2 separate regions of the Homo sapiens genome follow, and region 2 is linked to region 1. The links come from fine-mapping of genetic effects on plasma protein levels. A gene starts in region 1. The other region holds a variant in brackets. All regions are shown on one strand. Distances are from middle to middle. Region 1 holds the start of PTGFRN (prostaglandin F2 receptor inhibitor). Region 2 overlaps PTGFRN (prostaglandin F2 receptor inhibitor).

Region 1 (2,908 bases):
TATAGAAGGCCTCCTCTGGAACCCTCTGACCATAAGTGCAGAGTAATCATTTGCCCTGTGTGCAGCTGGGACCTGAATGGCACGGACACCGCACATCATGCGCTCTGTGAAAGACTCAGAGCCGCCTTCTCTAGGGGCTTGGAAGAGAACCCCAGGCCAGGTCACAGGAATCATCTTGTCCTGGTTGACACTGACAACAAGGATCCAAGAATATCAAAACATTTAAGAGTCGGCCCTGGGGTACCATGGTGGGCACTTAATAAACATATTTCCGTGGCTGGCTAGGATCACCATGTGGATCTACGTGAAGATGGTGTCTGTGTATGGAGTGAATGGAAAATGGAGAGGGAAAAAACCCACAAAAGATTCCTTGGGTGGGGGGAGGGCGCTGGGCCAAAACCTCACGGGGCACCCAGGGTTTCCGGAGGGTGGAAGACGAGGGGATAGTAAGGGAGGGAAAGTAACAGGTAGAAAAAGTTGGAGAAGCCAGGCTTTTAGGTCTTTGTGTATAAATACGCAGCTAGGCAGCTTCAAGAAAAGCTAAAAGAAAAGACTGAGGCAGAAGATCTAGCCACGACGAAAATGACGGCAGGACTCGCCCGCCGATTTCCATTGTAACGCTCCGGGCCACCCTGTGACCTTCGTGGAAGGAAGTTGGAGGATTCTCTCGCTTCCCTGGAAAGGCAACTCCGCGCGGGTTGGGTGAAGAGCGACCCGGCCGGCGGCGGCTATGGCGGGGCATATCAAAGGCTCACATTTCCGCTCTCGAGCCGAGGACCCGGGCCGGGACCGCAGCACCTTCCGGGCCGGGAGTTCAAGGTGAGCCGGGCTCCCGGCGGCCAACAGGTAGGGAGACCTGGGGGAAAGACGGCCCCGGGCCACTCCCCCCGGCACATGTTGGGGGCGAGGCTCGGCCTGGCGGAGCGGCCACTTGCACCCCGCGCGCGGGGCCCGAGCGGATTCGCGCCAGGCTCCGGGCGGCCCCGCGGCCGCTCCCCGCCGGGCCGAACAACCCGCGCACCCCGGCCGGGTTTCCCGGGAGCAGCCCGGGCACCCTCGGCGCCCCAGGCCGCGCGCTGCAGCCGCGCCCCGCCGAGCCCTCCAGGGCCTCGCCAGTCCCCGTGTGCCCCGCTGAGCCCCGCGCACACTCACCCAACGACAGGAGCGCCAGCAGCAGCGGCCTCGAGGCCAGGCGCCCCATGCTCGCCCGGCGGGAGCGACTCTCCCCCTCCTCCTCCTTCCCCGCCGCCTCTCCTCCTCCTCCTCTTCCAGCTCCGGCTGCTCCAGAGTCGGCGCTCCTCCGCCTGGGCCGCGCGCCTGCTCCGCTCTCCTCGCGAGCCGATAAATCCCAGCGCTGGGGCGTACGTGCGCCCCTGGCTCCGCTCGCTCCCTCCCGCCTCCTTCCCTCCCTCCTCCAGCCGGCCGGGCCCGGGAGCCGGCCCCGCCGATCCGAGTGTGCAGCCCCGACCGCTTCCCGAAAGCAGAAGGGAAGAACCGCAGCGCCCGCCCGCGCCTCCCATCCGGCGCTTTGCCAGCAACAAACACAAACTTTCCCAAGCCCCTCCCCGCTCCAGGTAACGGAGGAAGAGCCGGGGCCACCCGCTTAAAGGCGAGGAGGCGTCGGAGCCCACCCTGCCATCCCCTCTGGGCCCCCACCCCACGAGAAACTTTCCTCCGACCTTTAAAAGTTGGCCTGGGAAAGACTCGTCTGGAAATCCCATCGCTTTAGCCCTATCCCGGGACACCCCGCGTTCCATCACGCTGGAGTCACCCACGCGTGTCTAGTCTATCCTCAGCCAACTCCCCGCTCGTTCGGCCTCTCGTCCTGAGCTAAACACCCCACCAACCAGCCGCTTGGCCTATGCCAAAAATTATGCAGATAGGAGCGAAGGAGCTGAAAGGACTTTTAAAGGCCACGGATTCCAACCTCTACCATACAGAGGCCTTAAGTGTTTCGGTGAGGTGCCCAAGGATTCACAGGGAAGGGGCAAAATCAGAACCCCGCTCTCCTGACTCTGCCCACTCCCCGGTGGCTAGGGTGGGCCTGTCTCCTTCCTTACCCAGCTCCCTCCCTCTCCTCGGCGCCTGTGGCACTGATTAGAACAGCACCCCACAAAGACACCCATTTAAAAAACAAACAAAACCCAAGTGTATTAATAGCTATAGTACTTCATATAGAATGTACTCTTAAGACTTAATATTTATTGCTCTAAGTGGACACCACTGATTGCCAATAAAGACTCATTTTTCCCCCTACAATAGAGTTTTGTGCTTTTGATTTGAATACAAAAGGCCCGACTTGGTTGGGAGAAATGGAGCATTCCTTGCTTGAAACTTAGCAAGCATGATTCAAACACGCAAGGAGCAGCACTGGTGCCCACTGCCCGTCACTGGGCTTTCATTCACATGCAAAACGGATCGCAGATGCTTATGCGGAAACTGCCCACACTGGGGAAGAACACTGCTTTTACTCTCATGCATCCGTCTTTCAACCAACAAATGTTTCTTATTTCCCCACTATCAAATGTGTGATTAGCCAGGTATCTTTGGAAAGAGACTTAAAAATTCATTCCTGGTGGTGCAACGTTATTGTACTTAATGCCACTGAATGGTACACTTAGAAATGTTTAAAATTGCCAGGCCTGGTAACTGGTACTTGTAATGCTAGCTACTCAGAAGGCTGAGGTTGGGGGGGCAGGGGGAGGCGGGGGGCAGGGATGGTGTTGCTTGAGGCCAGGAGTTTTTATTTGTTTTGTCTTCTTTCTTTCTTTCATTTTTGAGACAGGGTCTCAAAATGAGGATCTGTCACCCAGGCCGGAGTGCAGTGGTGCGATCAGGGATCACTGCTGCCTTGACCTCCCAGGCTCAAGCAATCCTCCCACCTCCACCTCTCAAGTAGCTGGAACCA
Region 2 (2,908 bases), 41 kb before region 1:
TTTTACCTGTGTAGCAAACCAACTCTCTCGAAAACTTTTCTGTGACAACATTCCAGAGTTACATGACCTAAGACCACCTATATCAACAGAGTGCTTGTCAGGTTGTCTGTCTATCTTTTTTGGTCACTTCTCGGTTACCTTATATTGGTCCCAAGTTGTATGTGGTATGGTATCCGTACGCATATACATGCACATTACATATCTAGAGACAACCATGGAGTGTCAGGCCAGGCTCACTGGCTTCTGGACAGAGTCCAGCGGGGAAGTCTTTGAGAAGGGTCTGCTGCTATGCTCATGCCCTACCCGCTCCTGACAAGTGTCCAAGCAGCTGTAATGGTCTGAGTCATAGGCACAGGGAAGGAGGAGAAGTCTTAAGAGGAAGAAAAAAAAAAGAATGCAATTGTTTTTCATACTACTCGCTCTTTCGTTAGGTTTACTCAGGGGCAAATATCTCTGAATATCCTAGGAGTTGAACATTACTGCTTTCTTAGCAATTCTAGCTTTCCTATGCACATATTTTAACAAAATCCATGTGTGGGTACTGGTTTATTTACCCGTTCAGCTAATATTTATTGAGTGCTTATTACATGCAAAGCAGCAGGGAAGGTGCAGGTTCTGTATCTGTTAGCATCAGTCAGGAAAAGCACACTGATGACTTTCACAATGGTAGTAGCACTCCAAAGGAAAACAAATGACGGGATCCTTTGGATAGTAACTGAGCCTTTTCCACAATTTAGTCTCTTTATTTCTTTTCACTCTCTGGAGAACACAGCTACCAACAAATCCCTTCCAGTTAAAGGAGCCCATTCCTCCTAGAGCTCCGCTCCTGTTGTCTGACAGTCCCTGCATCTCCCCCCGGGTATGCCGGGATCAATGCACACGTACTTCAAAGAAGCCTCAAATTGGAGTGCAAGCAGCACTTTCAATTAAAAAAAAAAAAGTCCTCGAGTTGGGATTCAGAAGCTGAAGGGGGAGCGGGTACGGAGAGCCAGTGCTGGGATTTGACAGCACCATACAATACACTAAGGATCAGAGCTGTGAGACAAATTCAGCTCCAGAGATGAAAAATCTTCTTTTGGTGCTGACAACATCTGTTTTATTTTGAAGGTTGCTAAGGAGAGTTCTAGCTGGGCCAACATTGTTCCAGTTCAGTACTTCATAGTGACTCTCTTGCATGGGGTTCAGACGGCAGGAATAAAAAGCTTGCCAGATAAACCCCGCTTCTTTTACTTTTCAGATATCAAAGGATTACTTTGCTAACAGGGCTGATGAACACCCTGCCTCGTCTCCATCGGAATCGGATTGTCCCTTCCGCTTACTCTCATTGCTCTTCTTCTCCCTGCCCCCTCTGTCTCCACTGGCCAACTCCCCATCTTTGCCAAATAAAGGCTTACTGGGGAGGAAAAAAAAAAGGAGAGCGAATATGCCACTAACCCAAGAGAAGATTTCCATGCAGAGATAAGGAATAGATAAGTATGAGTTGGAGGTCATAGCAGAAGAATCAGACAAAGGAGGAAATGGTTTCCTGGCCTTTAAAGATCTGTTTTGCCTGCTAATAATCAGAGCAATGCCAAATGCCTTTATCAGGGCTCAGGCACTCACGGACAGTAGAGAGATCAAAAC[AG/G]GGGGGAATGTGATGAAAGGCCTGTCCCATCTCTGTAATAATGGAGGTGGGGAGCGAAGCTTTCCACACCCAGCTTGACCCCATCCCTCCTTTGATTACTTGCAATTACAAGACATAACAAAAATTAGGAAAAGTTAGTGTACATTTTGCCCAGAGGGCAAACATTTAGGGAAAAAAGAGGTAGGGGAAAAGGAGCTTAGTATAAAGTAAGAGGACATGCCAAAGATCTCCACATATACGGCAGGTTGTTATAAAATGGGTGGCAAGGTGCTCAACACTTGAGAGCTACTCTGCTCCTCCACTGGGGAAATTACACCTGGGGTGAGAGCGTCCACAAAACAAGCCTATAGAAGCAGGCGGGCCCTTTAGTTGTAAGTGGTATATACAGATATATTGTGGGATTCCAGGGCGTGACGTGAAAAAAAAAATGCTTTCTAATAACTGAAGGAATTATCTTTCTGCATTGGGCTTTGGAAAAGCACCAGCTCCTGCCAGGGAGCACCTAGGAGTCTAAGAGAAACAAAGGAAGAATGGCAGTGTTCTCCCTCCAACAAAGATTCATTTCAAAGAGCCATTCAGCAGTGCCCTGACCCTGCAAATGTCGACAACAAAAGGAAACTATATACTCTCAAATGAGGGTATTGAGACAACTGAGGCCACATTATCTAAACATTTCCCTTGTCTGCCAGATTCTATTTCATCCCCAGCTTGGGATCTATCTGGGCCAAAGTATGCATGAACCAATAGAAATAATGTCGAAGTCATGCAAAGCGCAGAGCCTCCTGAGATAACTCCTTCAGATAACTCCGAGGAGGGGTTAAGCTGAAGAGGTTAAGAGTCATTCTCCAAACCACTCACCTAGCCAGGTCACACCCACACCAGCTGGGGAAGACACGGCCTCTGCCACTTTGTGCCAGCTCCTGTTGTGTCCGGGTGCCCACAGGGACACGTGGCAGTAATAGTAGCCAGAGTTTTCTTTGCTAACATCCCGAACCAGTAAATGGTAGGAGCGTGCATCCACATGACTCAAAGCAACATGAGGCGAGCTGTGCACCAGGGAATCACGGTCAAGCCGCGCCAACACGCGGGAGCCAGGTAGGGTGCTGTCAGGCATCCTGCTGAAGGACCACGTCACCTCGGGCCGGACGTCATCGGCTCGGTCTGTTGTGATGTTACAGGTCAGGTCCAGTTCCTTTCCTTCAGCCACAGACACATTCTTGGGCACAGCTGCTCGCAGAACTTGAAAATTAAAAACAAATACATCTAGGTAATCTGATTATGTTT

The links. PIP is the chance, under the fine-mapping model, that this variant and not a neighbour inherited with it causes the effect. Sun 2018 read protein levels with aptamers (SomaScan).
Region 2: its variant is fine-mapped to the plasma level of the PTGFRN protein (Sun 2018, PIP 0.95).

What each region holds. Positions count from the first base shown.
Region 1 is chr1:116,908,497-116,911,404 of GRCh38, reverse strand. It overlaps PTGFRN (prostaglandin F2 receptor inhibitor), which reads right to left and starts at 1,489. Exons shown (of 9, transcript NM_020440.4): 1 at 1,153-1,489. The coding sequence starts at 1,201.
Region 2 is chr1:116,949,147-116,952,054 of GRCh38, reverse strand. It overlaps PTGFRN (prostaglandin F2 receptor inhibitor), which reads right to left. Exons shown (of 9, transcript NM_020440.4): 4 at 2,483-2,863. Among named protein-coding and RNA genes, the nearest start is that of PTGFRN, 41 kb to the right of the region's middle. The variant AG/G (reference allele first, on the strand shown) is at 1,624.